2 separate regions of the Homo sapiens genome follow, and region 2 is linked to region 1. A link means that fine-mapping ties the variant in region 1 to the expression of a gene that starts in the linked region. Tissue or cell type: whole blood. Region 1 holds a variant in brackets; the other region holds the start of a gene. All regions are shown on one strand. Distances are between the middles of the regions.

Region 1 (7,530 bases):
CAAGACACTGTGACTCCGGAGGCAGCCCAAATATCCTGGGCAAATTGTCCCCAACAAGCTTGACCACTGTGCTATCATCAAGTTTCCACTAACCACTGAGTCTGCCATGAAGAAGATAGAAGACAGCAACACACTTGTGATCACTGTGGATGTTAAAGCCAAGAAGCACCAGATCAAACAGGCTGTGAAGAAGCTCTGTGACATTAATGTGGCCAAGGTCAACACCCTGATCAGCCTGATGGAGAGCATATGTTCAACTGGCTCCTGATTACAGTGCTTTGGATGTTACCAACAAAATTGGGATCATCTAAACTGAGTCCAGCTGGCTAATTCTAAATATATGCATATATTTTCACCATTAAAAAAAAAAGGAAGAAAGTGAAGGGATAAAAGAATGGCTACTCCATAGGCAGAGCAGCTCTGAGGGCTACTGGTTGGCCACTTTTATGGTCATTTCTTGATTATATGCTAAACAAGGGGTGAATTATTCATGCGTTTCCCAGGAAAGGGGTGAGCAATTCTTGGACCTGAGGGTTCCTTCCCTTTATAGACCATATAGGGTAACTTCCTGATGTTTCCATGGCATTTGTAAATTGTCATGATGCTGTTGGGAGTATCTTTTACTTATAATTAATGATAATTAATGTATTATAATGAGCAGTGAGGACGACCAGAGGTCACATTAGTCGCCATCTTGGTTTTGGTGGGATTTGGCTGCCTTCTTTACCGCGTGCTGTTTCATTAGCAAGGTCTTTGTGACCTATATCTTGTGCCGACCTCCTATCTCATCCTGTAACTTAGAATGCCTAACCTCCTGGGAATGCAGTCCAGCAGGTCTCAGCCTTATTTTACCCAGCCCCTATTCAAGATGGAGTTGCTCTAACTCAAATGCCTCTGACAGTATGATCTACAAATAAAGCTCGTACATATTCAAGGTGCACAGCATGATGTCTTGGTACATGTCACGTGGTGAAATGATTACCACAGTCAAATCAATTAACACACACATCACCTCATGTGGTTACCTGTGTGTGTGTGCATGTGTCTGTGTGTGCGGTGACAACATGTAAGATCTACTCAGTAAATTTTATGTCCATGATATGTTATTAACCAGAGTCTCCATGCTGTGCTTCAGGTCTCCAGAACTACTTATCTTATAGCTGAAGCTTTGTACTCCTCCTCACCCAGCCCCTGACTTTTTTAGATTCCATATATAAGTTGGCTCATGCAGTATTATTTGTCTTTCTGTGCCTGGCTTATTTCACTTAGCATAATGTCCTCTGGGTTCATCCATGTTGTTGACATGGTTTCCTTCTTTTTTAGACCTGAATAATTTTCATTATTATAGTGTAGTATAGCATGTAACACTAATATCTATACCACGTTTTCTTTATTCATTCACTGATGGACATTTAGGTTGTTTCTGTATCTCAGCTATTATGAATAGTGCTGTAATTAACATGGGAGTGCAAGTATCTCTTTATGACAGTGATTTTATTTCCATTGGGCATACTCAGAAGTGAGATGGCTGGATCAACAAAATTAAAAGGCAACCTATGGATGGGTGAAAACATTTGCAAACCAAACATCTGGTAAGGGGTTAATACCCAAAATATATAAGAGCTCCTACAACTTATTAGCAAAAAACAAAACCAAAACAAGAACCAAATAACCTAACTTTAAAAATAGACAAAGGACCTAAATAGGCATTTCTCCCAAGAAGGCATACATATGGCCAACAGGCATATGAATAGGTGTTCAACATTACTAATCTAGGAGGGTCGGTAGGGTGGCTCATGCCTCTAATCCCAGAGCCTAAGGTGGGAGGATTGCTAGAGCCCAGGCTTTGGAGACCAGCCTGGGCAACATAGGAAGACTCCGTCTGTACAAAAAATTTTTAAAAATCAGCGGGGCGTGGTCGTTCCTGAGGTCCCATCTAGTCCAGAGGCTGAGGCGGGAGTATCCCTCGAGCCCGGGAAGTCTAGGTTGCAGTGAGCCGAGATTGCACCACTGCACTCCAGCCTGGGCCACAGAGGGAGACCCTGTCGCAAAAAATAAATAAATAAATAAAATTCAGGAAAATGCAAATCAGAATCAGAATGAAATGTCTCCGAACACCTGTTAGAATGGCTAATATCAAAAAGACAAGAGACAACAAGTGTTGGTCACGATGTGGAGAAAAGGGACCCTTCGCACGCTGTTGAGGGGAATGTAAACTGGTGCAGCCATCACGGAAAATAGGACGGAGGTTCCTCCAAAAACTCAAAACAAGGTCCAGTCTTTCTGAGGCCCCCTTCTGCTTGCCTGTGACCACCCTTCTTCCAACCCTCCAGTTCCAGGTCCCCTCTGCTGCCCTTAGACGCGGCGTCTTCGCACTCTGGGCCTTACCGCGGCTGCTCCTCCAGGTTTGCTCTCCAACTGCAGCCTTCCCTGTCCTACGCGACCACCGGCCTCCTGGCGCCCTCTGCCTATAGTGAACACCCCTCCAACACCGTGCCATCACCTCACGTTTACTCTCACCTCCTCCTCCACTAAATTGCAAGCTCCAGGGAGGCATGTTTTCATCTGATGCGTTCACCCCAAGTACTAACAGCTATGCCTGGCACATAGTAGATGCTAAATGGATATTTGATGAACTTAAAAAAAAAATTCAAAGGATTCCTTTCCTCTCTGGTCAATGGAAGACGGAGAAGGAATGAAATTGAACTTCAATAGCTTAACAAAGGGCGGGAGGGTGGTGTGTTGACCGCCCCCCCAACCCCCCAACGCTGGGCCCCAACCCACCCCGCCCCGCCCCCACGGGATGCTTTTCTACAAGGGTGAGAGGAGCTGACTCCGGTTTGGACTGGAAGAAAGTTTCCAAGAAAATCAAATTAGTGGCCCAAACACATACCCCTTCTCCGCCCCGCGCAGTCTCTGAGATGCGTCCCAGCAATTGCCCAGGGACTTGGAGGGAGCGGGCATTTTCAGGCTGCACAGAGGCCATCTGGGGAGAAGGTGTGCGGCTGTTTTGCTGAAATGTAAAAAGAGATGTCCTTTGGAGCCCGGGACGCCGTTTCCGGCTGGCTACCCGAGGTTGCGTGCAAGGGGCGGGTCCTTAGGCATGAAAATGACCCTCCCGGCCGCAACGGCGCACAGGCCCAGGGCCGCTGAGCCCCTCCAAGCCGGGATTCGTTTTGGAGACCTGCGCGATGGAGCGGACAGCGGGACTGGGGGGCGCCGCAGTGCAGGGTGTACAGCTGCAGAGAAGCCGGGGATACAGGGGTGCGGGGCGCAGGGATAACGGGCGCAGGGGACGGTCACGGGTGCTTTCTAGTGGGTTGTGCAGGCTCAGGTTCCCAGCGCTGGGTGGTTGCGACTCTGCATAAAACGCTAAGCTTTTGAGGCCCTTATTCAAGCTCGGGGACGTCTCCCAGTTGGTCAGTTCAAAACCTCTGGGCCAGGTTGCGTTGGTGGCAGATTCCGCCCGCTAAGTCTCCGCACGCTGCCGCGGGTCTGCTCCTCCCCCGGGGTCAGAACCTCTGACGCTCTCCTGCTTTTACACGCGTTAAGTCACTGGTTTCTTGCAGCATCACGTGTTCCCTAGATACATGGGCTGAGGCTTATTCTTCCTGAAAGTGAGGGTTTTTTCCTTTGGGCTTTCCAGAGCCAGCCCGCGTGGAGAGTGACGAGTGACAGGCGCCTTTGTTCCGGGCTTGCATGGGTGGGACGCGCCCCCTCCT[C/G]AGCACTCAGCCCGGCGAGCCTGGCCCTCCCGTCGCCCCTTCTTAAGTGCATTTGTCCCGGGCTCTCGATTTTGTTTACTCTTTCCTGCTTACACAGGTACACACACACACCCAGACCTAAACTTTATATAAACAGACATGAACTTAAAGAAACAAAATCCCCCTATGTGTCAACGCGCTCCTTTTTAACAAAATCAACAAAAATTCAACACAATGTTATTTCCATCCTTTTGTTGTCTTATTAGAAACGTGTATGTTAACTTTCCTCCTTTTATAAATGGGGCATGTTCTAATTAACCATTTGTATGGTTGTTTTTAGTGCTCAAATGGTCACATTGCAGCCCCGGGGAGGTATTTTCAAAACGCTGCTCTGTCATTTTAGGATCACCCTGATTGTTGGAAGCACCTTTGCTTTTGTTTTTGTTTTGTTTTTGTTTTGCTGAGACGGGGTCTAGCTCTGCCGCCTAATCAGGCTCACTGTGGCTTCAAAACTCCTGGCTCAAGCAATCCTCCCGCCTCAGCCTCCCAAGTAGCTGGTACTACAGGTGAGTACCACAGCGCCTAATTGGTTTTTTGTTTTGTGTGTGTGTGCGTGTTTTTGGTTTTTTTTGTTTGTTTGTTTTTGTTTTTGTTTTGTTTTGTTTTGTAGGCAGGTTCTCCCTATATTGCCCAGGATGGCCTTGAACTCTAACCTCGGCCTCCCAAAGTGCTGGGATTACAGGTGTGAGCCACTGGCACCCGGCTCATCTTTGCTTTCTGACAGCAAAAAGTTATTTCAGACCTATCATGGGTGTTTTGTTTTGTTTTGAATTTTTGTTTTTTTGACTCCAGATATGGACTTAACTGCACTCCAAGGAGTTTATGTTGCTCTTCATGAAAATTAGTATTATAGACAAAATTGAAGCTGGGAATCAGCTACTTTTGTCTCTCATTTTCACTGTTCTCTTTTTTTTTTAGATGGAGTCTCACCCTGTCCCCCAGGCTGGAGTGCAATGGTGCGATCTCGGCTCACTGCAACCTCTGCCTCCTGGGTTCAAGCGATTCTCCTGCCTCAGCCTCCCAAGTAGCTGGGAGTACAGGCGCTGCGTCACCATGCCTGGCTAATTTTTTGTATCTTTAGTAGAGATGGGGTTTCACCATGTTGGCCGGGCTGGTCTCGAATCCCTGACCTTGTGATCTGCCCGCCTTGGCCTCCCAAAGTGCTGGGATTACAGGCATGAGCCACCACGCCCGGCCACTGTTCTCTTTTTTTAATGATGGTGTAGCTGTCTACCCTGTGGAGATATATTGATCTTCAAAATCACCGTGATAGTACAGTTATTATGGAAAACATTATTAAATTCAAAATAGAATTCCCAAACGATATAGCAACCCCACTGCTGGGGATATATCTAAAGGAAATGAAATCCGTATCCAGAAGAGAGATCTGCACCATGTTCACTGCAGCACCATTTACAATAACCAAGACATGGAGTTAACCTAAGTATCCATTGTCGGATGAATGAGTAAAGAAAATATGGTACATATGTACAATGAAATACTATTCCGGCCTTAAAACATAATGAAATTCCCTCATTTGTGACAACAGGGGTGAAATGAGAACATTACGTTAAGTGAAATTAGCCAGATATGGAAAGACAAACACTGCATAATCTCACTTCTATGCGGAATCTAAAGAGGTTGATATCATAAAGCAGAGAGTGGAATGATGGTCACCAGGATCTGGGGGCCAGAGACGCTGACTAAAGGGCACAGGAGGGGGCTAGGGCACGCTGACACAGGAGGAGTCAGTTCAAGACATCTAATGTACAACACAATGACTATAATTCACAGCAATGTAGTACATGAAAATTGCTAAGAGAGTAGATTTTAGGTGTTCTCACCACAAATAAATATGTGAGGTAATGTCTATGTTAATTAGCTTGATTTAGCCATTCCCCAATCCATATTCCCAACACAATACATATTTCAAAACAGTACCTTGTACACCATATATACAATTTTTGTCAGTTTAAAGAAATAAAGAAGAAAAAAAGTCACCATGATCATTGGTAGTCCTTCCATGATAATGCTGATGCCTCATCCTCAAGTGAGGACATTTGTCTCAGTCACTTCAAGCTGCTATGACAAAACACCAGAGACTGAGCAATTTGTAGACAATAGAATTTTTGATCACAGTCTGGAGGCTGAAAGTTCAAGATGAAGGTGTCAGCAGGGCTGGGGTCTGGTGAGGGTCCTCTTCTGGGCTGTAGAGTGCAGTCTTGTGGTTGCAACCTCATGTGATGGAAGGGGTGAGGCAGCTCTCTGGAGTCCATTTTACAGTGGCCCTAATCCCATCAGTGAGGGCTCCACCTTGATGACCTAATTATCTCCCCAAGGCCCCACCTCCTATGCCATCCTCACATTGAGGGTTGGGGCTTCCACAGATGAGTTTGGGCTGGGGACACAAATGTTACCCGAAAGGGGTCCCAGTCCAAACCCCAAAAAAGGGTTCTTGGATCTGGTGCAAGAAAGAATTTGAGGCAAATCCATAAAGTGAAAGCAAGTTTATTAAGAAAGTAAAGGAATAAAAAATGACTAATCCATAGGCAGAGCAGTGGCATGGTGCGCTGGTTGCCCATTTTTATGTTTATTTCTTGATTATATGCTAAATAAGGTGGGGATTATTCATGAGTCTCCCAGGAAAGGTGTGGGCAATTCCCAGAGCTGAGGGTTTCTCCTCTTTTTAGACCATATAGGGTAACTTCTGGATGTTGCCATGGCATTTGTAAACTGTCATAGCACTGGTGGGAGTGTAGTGGTGAGGATGACCAGAGGTCACTCTCATCGCCATCTTGGTTTTGGTGGGTTTGGGGCAGCTTGTTTACTGCAACCTGTTTTATGAGCAGCGTCTTTATGACCTGTATCTTGTGCTAACCTCCTGTCTCATCCTGTGACTTAGAATGCCTTAACCTCCTTAATCTCCTGGGAATGCAGCCCAGCAGGTCTCAGCCTTATTTTACCCAGCCCCTATTCAAGATGGAGTTGCTCTGGTTCACACGTCTCTGACACAAACATTTAAGCCAAAGCAACATTGTGGAAAGAAAGGAAAGACATTTCTGAAAACAAATGTGTGGTTCTGCCTGATGGTTCTGGTGAATCTTCCGCACTTGCTATGACAAGAAATTCAAGGAAAATAATAGGTGAGAGTTGTTTTGTGAAAAATGCTGCAACTTTGGCATTGTTGCTACTGCAATTTGGGCCCAGGGTCTTGCAGGTTGGGGTTTCACCCTCCTCATTTCACATAAACCCGGGGCCAGCCTTCACTGGATGCTAATTGGCATATCTACAAATAGGCCAGCCGGTCTGTGTCTCCTGATTTAGAGACTGTAAACTAAAAATAAAATCCTAAGCACCCCTAACCAACTGCACAGACACTCTGTTGGTAAAAGGGACCCCATAGAACCTTAAAAACTGAGTTTCTGGCCATGATAGGGTGGGAGTCAGACACATCTCATTATACCCCTTTCTGTTGAGGTTTAGACACAACTGACAGCATTCATGTTAACATAGAGACAGTCCAGGTGAGGTTAAGAGAATTTTTTAAAAAAACACAGACACAGGATGGAGTCTTTGTGGCAATAAGGTGACAAATTATAAACAAGACCTAAGGGTTAAGTCAGCACCCTACACTTAAAGAATAAACCATGTTTTCACTGCTGCAAGGGTTTTCTTTTACTCCAGCAGCTAACCAAGCACTGGCCTCCAGCTAAGCAACATTAAGACAATTGCAGCTTACCCAGCTCACAGAGGCTGACTCTCCGACCCC
Region 2 (7,530 bases), 42 kb before region 1:
TCACTCTGTCACCCATGTTGGAGTGCAGTGGTGCCATCACAGTTCACTGCAGCCTCAACCTCTTGGGCTTAAGTGATCCTCCCACCTCAGCCTCCCAAGTAGCTGGGACCACAGATGCAACACCATACCTGGCTAATTTATTAATTTTTGTACAGATGGTGGTCTCACTATGTTACCCAGGCTGGTCTCGAACTCCTAGCCTCAAGCAATCCTCCTACACCTCAGCCTCCCAAGTTGCTGGGATTACAGGCATGAACCACTGCACCTGACCCTGTTAGTTTAGCTTATGTCAGTTTAATTCTCCCGCCCAGCCTGGGGCCCTAAAAGGGGAGAAATAGAGTTCTTTCTCCCCTACACTGCAGTGCTCAGCTGCACAGGAAGACTGTCCCTCTCCCATCTCCCATGGCCAAGGGGACAGTAAATCCTTGAGTGGCCCTGCTAGGTCTAGAGCCTGTCAGGCACGTGACTGTCAGGGCAGGACACACACCCATCTTGCCAGCAACTGTCCCTGCTGTGCCCACACCAGAACTCCAATGGCTGAAAACCATCCCATCAGCCTTCAACAAACAGCATTCACACTTGCCACTCTTCAGCTGGTTTTCAGCCAACTCCTAACCTTGCAAACAGGAGAGCAGAGCAGGATGCTACTCTGATTTTACTCAGTCATGGATGGCTTCCACCTGGCCCTGGGCCACACAGGGCAGGTGACACCCATAGTCATGAGGGGCCAAGGCTTTTGTTGCTGAGAATGCAAATGACAGCTGGGTGTCTGCTGGCTGGCTGATGCAACACGCTGCAAACTCCTTCCTTTGGATTTAGGTGGCTTCTCTCATCCCAGCATCTAAGCCACAAACCCCCAAAACAGGACAGATTGAAAGCTCCAACCTGCTAAAATCTGTGGGCAAAACAATTCCCTTGGGGTAACACAGGGTTACTGAAAACTTGGAGGTCCCCAAAGCCTTCCAGCCTCACTTGCACTGGGCAGTGTTGACCACTCACAAGGCAAGGAGAAGTTCAGAGCAGCCCCAAGGGCAGTGTGGAGTGCCAGGGGTCTGAGTGGCATCAGGGACCCCATGTGTAACCCGTCACTGTCTGAGGGAGGCCTGCACCTCAGGCCTGTGGATAGCAGGCAAGGGCTTGGCAGCACCAGGAGCACAGAGCCCACCTCAGCCTCAAGCTGGGGTAAAAACGTGGGCCTCAGCCTCGAGATGCAGCCAGTTACCCAAGAGCTGCTGCACCTGTGAAAAGCACTCTGTCTTTCAGGTTAAAAGAAGGAGATAGGAATTTATGAAACGCAGAGAAAATGGCACACAGGTTTTTACTACACGAGGAAAAAGTCACCAAATAGAGTTTAAACGACTAAAGAGCTTTACTGGTGAGTAACCTAAAAGAATCTATGGGATGTCCCCTTGGGATATAATACTGTGGAAGGCACCCAAGGAAAGTAACGCTGCTCTGGTCTGAATGTCTGTGTCCTCCCCAAATCCCCATGCTGAAATCCTCATCCCTCAGGTGATGGCGTTAGGAGGCAGGACCCTTGGGAGGTGATGAGGTTGTGAGGGTGGAACTCTCAAGAACGGAATCAGTGTCCTTACACAAAGGCCCCAGAGACACCCTCACTTCTTCCACCATGTGAGGACACAGTGAGAAGACACCATCTATGAACCAGGAAACGCCCTCACCAGACAGGGAATCTGCCAGTTCCTTCATCTTGGACTTCTAGCCTCTAAAAAATAATGAGCAACTCTCAGATCAGAACAAGAGGACCACAGAAAATTACAGATGTGTTCTAAAAAAGAAAAAAAAAATAGCACTTTGGGAGGCCAAGGCGGGAGAACCGCTTAAGGTCAGGAGTTTGAGACCAGCCTGGGCAACACAGCAAGACCCCCACCTCTAGAAAAGCATTTTAAAATTAACCAGGTGTGGTAGCACGTGCCTATAGTCCCAGAGGCTGAGGTGGGAGGATCGCCTGAGGCCAGTTCGAGCTGCAGTGAGCTACAATCATGCCATTGCACTTCAGCCTGGGTAATGAAGTGAGACTCTGTCTCTTGGGAAAAAAAAAAGAAGTCTGATGCTGCCATCACCTACAGGTAAAATGTGAGGAGAAAAAGAGGCTTCCACTGGCTTTGGCTAGATTCTATTTGAGAAATACAAACACATCCTAAAAAAAATACCCTGAAGCTCACTTAAGTCCAGAGGCCCCTCCTCCAACCAACCAGCTGAGCAGTTCAGAGGCCTGGCCCACTTGGCCTGGTGGTCCCTTTGTCTAGAGCCCTGAGCCCACAGTCCCCTCATTCCAGGCTGCCCCAGGTCCCCCCACTTGCCTTCCACACTGCAGCTGCTGACTCTGCCTGGCCATGCAGGTCCCGGGCGTCATTCAAGTCCTTTCTCATGATTTCCACAGACCCCTTGTTCTCCTGTAAAGAAAAGAAGGTCACCAGGGGTGGGCAGAAGCTCTGGGTCCCCCAACCCAGCCCAGTACTGAGGGACATCACCCCAGCTGACTGCACACAGTCTGACCATCCCAGAGATAACCTCGAAGCCCGGTTGTCTAGGGCAGGAACGCACAGGCAGTCAAAAGGTTTCTTGGGCTTCACACCTATTCAGAAGGATCTGGGTGCTGGGGCTAAGGGGACTGTCTAGGTGGGTTTAGGAGTTCTGTGTCTGTAAGTGGCCCTGTTCAGTGTGAGTTCGGCCTGTACCAAAGGTCTGCACAGCCTGCCCTACACCCTGCCCTGCCTGAGCCGGATGGGGGTCGCTCTGCCCGGTGGCAGGACCCCCAATGCAGGAGGAGCACCCAGGGACACAGTCTGGCTGGCTTCCCCTCCCCTGTATTGAAGAGCAGGACCCCAGGCTGGCTGTTGTCTCCTATTCTGTGTCCCACAACCAACCCGCCATGGGCAAGGCTCCAGACTCCCGGACCCGCTGCTGCCAGACTCTCAGAGCGGGTTTCTGAAAGATGGGAGAGGGGACAGGGGGTGCAGGCGAGGGCTGGGTGGCCCGGGGAGCAGACGAGAAGGTGGGCCAGGCCTGTGGACACAGTGGAATACAGAGGGGCAAGAGGCGTGATGTCTCCCCCAAGGGAAGAGTGAGTGGAGGAGTCAATCTGTAGGAACTAGAGGGGGTCTATGAGGGCGAGACAGGGCACAGCTAGTGATGGGACCACAAAGATGGGCGCTGGTGGGGGAAGGACTTCGTAGAAGGTAGGGGGTGGGGAGATAAGGCACCGCCCAGCAGGGGACACCAAGACGGGGAAGGGGACCAGACTCCGAAGAGACGCAGGAAATATGGGGAGGCAAGCCGCAGGAGGGAGGGGCCCAGCACACGCTGGAGAGGGGACCCGTGGCGGTGAGGGGAGGGGGACAATCCGGGGACGGGGACAATCCGGGGACAGGAACAGTGGAGACGGGAAGGGCCCAGGGCTCAGGGGGACCGGGGCGGGGGCGGAGAGGCGCAGGGCACCGTCCGGGGTGGGGCACGGGACCCCGCGGCGCGCACCTTGCCGCGCAGCGCCTTCCTCCAGCGCGGTTCCCACTCGGGCGGCTCGGGGCCCGCAGCCATACGGCAGGCGGCGCAGAGCGGGCCGGCGTCGGCGCGGCACAGCAGCTGCAGCGCGGCCTCGCTGGCCGGGCCGTCGCGCGCGGGCGCCGCGGCCGCCTCCTCGAGCGCCAGAAGGCGGCGGCTGAGCGGGGGCCTGCCGGGCTCCACGGCGCGCTGCCAGCAGTCGTCGGCGCACTCGGGGCACGGGAAGGGCCCGTCCTCCTCGGCCCAGAAGCGCACCACGCACGCCCGACAGAAGCGGTGGCCGCAGTCGGCGCGCACCGGTTCCCGGGGCGCGCGCTGGCACAGGGCGCAGGCGGCCTCGGCGGGGCCCGCAGGGAGCGCCAGGGCTGCGGGCGGCGGGGCCGGCAAGGGCGCAGGAGCGGCTGGGGAGGGCCGGAGACCTAGACGGCCGGCGACCGGACGGAGACCAGCAACAGGACGAAGACGCCAACGCCGGGGACGCGCACGGGGCGGGGTCGGGGACGCGCACGGGGCGGGGTCCGGACCGCGGAGCGCTCTGCCGATAAGATCCTGGCAGCGGTGTGCTGCAGCCGGAGGTCCTGGCCGCGCTGCGCTCCACAGACAAGATCCTGGCAGCAGTGTACTGCATCCTTAGGTCCTGGCCGCGGTGGGCTTCTCCGCCTGGATCCTAGCGGCGGTGCGCTCCTCCGCCTTGATTTTGGCAACTATGCTCTCCACCTGCAAGGTCCTGGCAGCGGCGCACGTCACCGCGCAAGTCCTGGCAGCTGCGCGCTTCACTCTACTGCCTGCGGACCGGCCCAAGTCGTATCCTGAAATCTTACTGGGCTGTCCCTTCCTACTTCAGTAACTCCTGCGAAAGAGGGAAACAAAGTTTTATTTTTACTTGAAGGTTCCATTTTTAAAAGGTTGTTTTTGTAAGCTGCTAGGATCTGAGCTGCGCGTACCCCCGCGGTAGCTCGCCCGCGTGGGCTGGGGACGGGGCGGGAAATGGCCTGCGTGGGCCTCCTCCGCTGCTCTCATCCTGCACGGACCCGCCCTGCATGGGCACGCCCTGCGTGCACGGGCCTGCCCGCGTGGACGTGCCCTGCGTGCACCCTTCCTTCAGGGACCCGCCCTTGAACGGCCCTCCGGACGTGGACACTCGTATACGCCCACCCTGCGTGGGATCTCCCTGCGTGGACCCATCCCGCTGAGCCTCTTCTCGCGCAGCCTCCCTCTGGCCCCCTGGGAAGCTACCCTGGTTGTCCGCTGTCTCCTGGCTGGGGGGAGCTCTCATTGATTCTGTGATGATGCATGACAGAAGAGCATTTGTTAGCTTTGCTTTGCTTTTCTTTCTTTTTTGAGACAGCCTCGCTCTGTTGCCAGGCAGGCTTGAGTGCAGTGGCGCGATCTCGGCTCACTGCAACCTCCGCGTCCCGGGTTCAAGCGATTCTCCTGCCTCAGCCCCCCGAGTAGCCGGTATTGCAGGCGCCTGCCACGACGCCCGGCTAATTTTTGTATTTTTAGTACAGACGGGGTTTCACCATGTTGGCCAGGCTGGCCTCGAACTCCTGACCTCGTAATCCACCCGCCTCTGCCTCCCAAAGTGCTGGGATTACAGGCGTGAGCCACTACACCCGGCCGTTAGCTTTTCTTTAAAAAATAAATTTAAAGGAAAGAAATAAGCCTTTGGGAAGAGCAATCTTGTGTTTTTGTTTTTTAATTATTTTGAAAACAAGCAAGCATGGTTAAAATAAGATTGTGCAAGTTTTGCATTTTAAAAAATTAATCTGGGCCGGGCGCCGTGGCTCACGTCTCTAATCCCAGCACTTTGCGAGGCCGAGGCGAGCGGATCACAAGGTCAAGATATGAGACCATCCTGGCTCATGGTGAAACCCCGTCTCTACTAAAAATACACAAATTAGCCGGGCGTGGTGGCGCATGCCTGTAATCCCAGCTACTCAGGAGGCTGAGGCAGGAGAATCACTTGAACCAGGGAGTCGGAGGTTGCGGTGAGCCAAGATCGTGCCACTGCACTCTAGCCTGGCGACAGAGCGAGACTCTGTCTTAAAAAACAAAAACAAAAAAAAATTTTTATAAATCTGTATTCCAAGCAAGCGCAGGATCTAATGAGGTATTTTTGTCTTTGTGAAGATTTTTTAAATCGACTTGGAAATGCACTAGATGCCCGTGGGAAACATGAATAGTAAACCGAGGTTATTTCTGTGTAGTAAAGATTAGAGGCTTCCAGCCGAGCCTTGCTGATATTGTTGAGTCAACTAGGAACTTGCTGGAGAGAAAAGTAAAAAATATAAAAAATGAGCAAACTTCATAATGAACTAATCTTGTGAATGAGAAAATATCAAAAATTATAATTAAAGGCAAATAGCCAAATTAGGAACATTGTAACCACAAATATACAAAGAGTTTATAAAATTAGGTAAGGAAAAGCATGATGGAAAATACACCTTGTCATGGGATTTTTCAAATCACAAAAAAAAAAGCACACAAATGATTGAACACACATGAGAAAAAAATGTACACTCTGCCCAGTTAAGAAAGAGGAAAATAAAACGAGACTCTCTTTCTTTCCACTATTAAGTAAGCAGACCAAACAAAAAAAAGGAAACTTGGCCGGGAGCCGTGGCTCAGGCCTGTAAACACAGCACTTTGGGAGGCCGAGGCGGGTGAATCATCTGAGGTCAGGAGTTCAAGACCAGCCTGGCCAACATAGTGAAACCCTATCTCTACTAAAAATACAAAAATTAGGCTGGATGTGGTGGCACACGCCTGTAATCCCAGCACTTTGGGAGGCTGAGGCAGGTGGATCACAAGATCAAGAGATCGAGACCATCCTGGCCAACATGGTGAAACCCCGTCTCTACTAAAAATACAAAAATTAGTTGGGCATGGTGGTGCACGCCTGTGGTCCCAGCTACTTGAGAGGCTGAGGCAGGAGAATAGCTGGAACCGGGAGACGAAGGTTGCAGTGAGCCGAGATCATGCCACTACACTCCAACCTGGCGACAGAGCAAGACTCCCTCAGTTTCAAAAAAAAAAAAAAAATACAAAAATTAGCCAGGCATGGTGGCACGTGCCTGTAATCCCAGCTATTTGGGTGGCTGAGGCAGGAGAATCGCTTGAACCTGGGCGGTGGAGGTTGCAGTGAGCCGAGATCACACCACTGCACTCCAGCCTGGGCAACAGAGTGAAACTCCATTTCAAAAAAACAAAAAACAGAAAACAAACAAACAAAAAAAACACTTGATTCTGTGAATACTGCTTCTTGTAATCCACGTAGCAGTATCGATTAAGGATTTTCTGATTGGAATTCCTTTTCTTAGAAAACAAACTATAAAAATAACAGGAAATGAAAATAATAAAAATTGGGTTGTAAAAAATTGGGCTGTTTTGTTTTGTTTAGAAATGTGGCTGGGAGAGGTGGCTCATGCCTGTTAATCCCAGCACTTTGGGAGGCTGAGGTGAGTGGATAGCTTGAGCCCAGTAGTTCAACACCAGCCTGGGGAACATGGCAAGAACCTGTCTGTACAGAAAATTTTTAAAATTTAGCTGGGCGTGGTGGCACGCACCTGTGGACCCAACTACTTGGGAGGCTGAGGTGGGAGGATCACCCGAGCACAGGAGATTGAGCCTGTAGTGAGCCGTGATCATGCCACTGCACTCCAGCCTGGGAAATGAGAGAATTTTTTAAGACCTTGTCTTAAAAAAAAGAAAGAGAGAGAGAGAGAGAGAGAGAGGTGGGGGCGGGGGGTGGGGGAGAGAAGGAAGGAGTGGAGGGAGAGAGGAAGGAAGGAAGAAAGGGAAAAGAAAAAGAAGAAAGGAAGGAAAGAAAGAAAAGGAAGGAAGGAAGGAGAAAAAGAAGGAAGGAAAGAAAGAGAGAAAGGAAGGGAGGGAGGGAGGAAGGGAGAGGAAGAAAGAGAAGAAAGAAAGAGAAATGTATGTCATATCACTATTCATTTTGGAGAAAAAAAAAAAAACCTTGAAGGTCCAATACTAGGGGCATGG

The links. PIP is the estimated chance that this variant, and not a neighbour inherited with it, causes the effect.
Region 2: it holds the start of RNF187, and the variant in region 1 is fine-mapped to the expression of RNF187 in whole blood (TOPMed, PIP above 0.99).

What each region holds. Positions count from the first base shown.
Region 1 is chr1:228,441,942-228,449,471 of GRCh38, reverse strand. It overlaps LOC124904538 (a long non-coding RNA gene), which reads left to right and starts at 4,440. Exons shown (of 2, transcript XR_007066919.1): 1 at 4,440-7,530. It also overlaps the pseudogene RPL23AP15. The variant C/G (reference allele first, on the strand shown) is at 3,723.
Region 2 is chr1:228,483,847-228,491,376 of GRCh38, reverse strand. RNF187 (ring finger protein 187) reads right to left here and starts at 3,995. Exons shown (of 4, transcript NM_001010858.3): 1 at 3,499-3,995; 2 at 2,325-2,417. The coding sequence starts at 3,888. RefSeq lists enhancers at 1,821-2,548, 2,549-3,277, 3,395-4,255, 4,557-4,936, 4,256-5,117 and 1 more and silencers at 3,357-3,556, 3,817-3,936.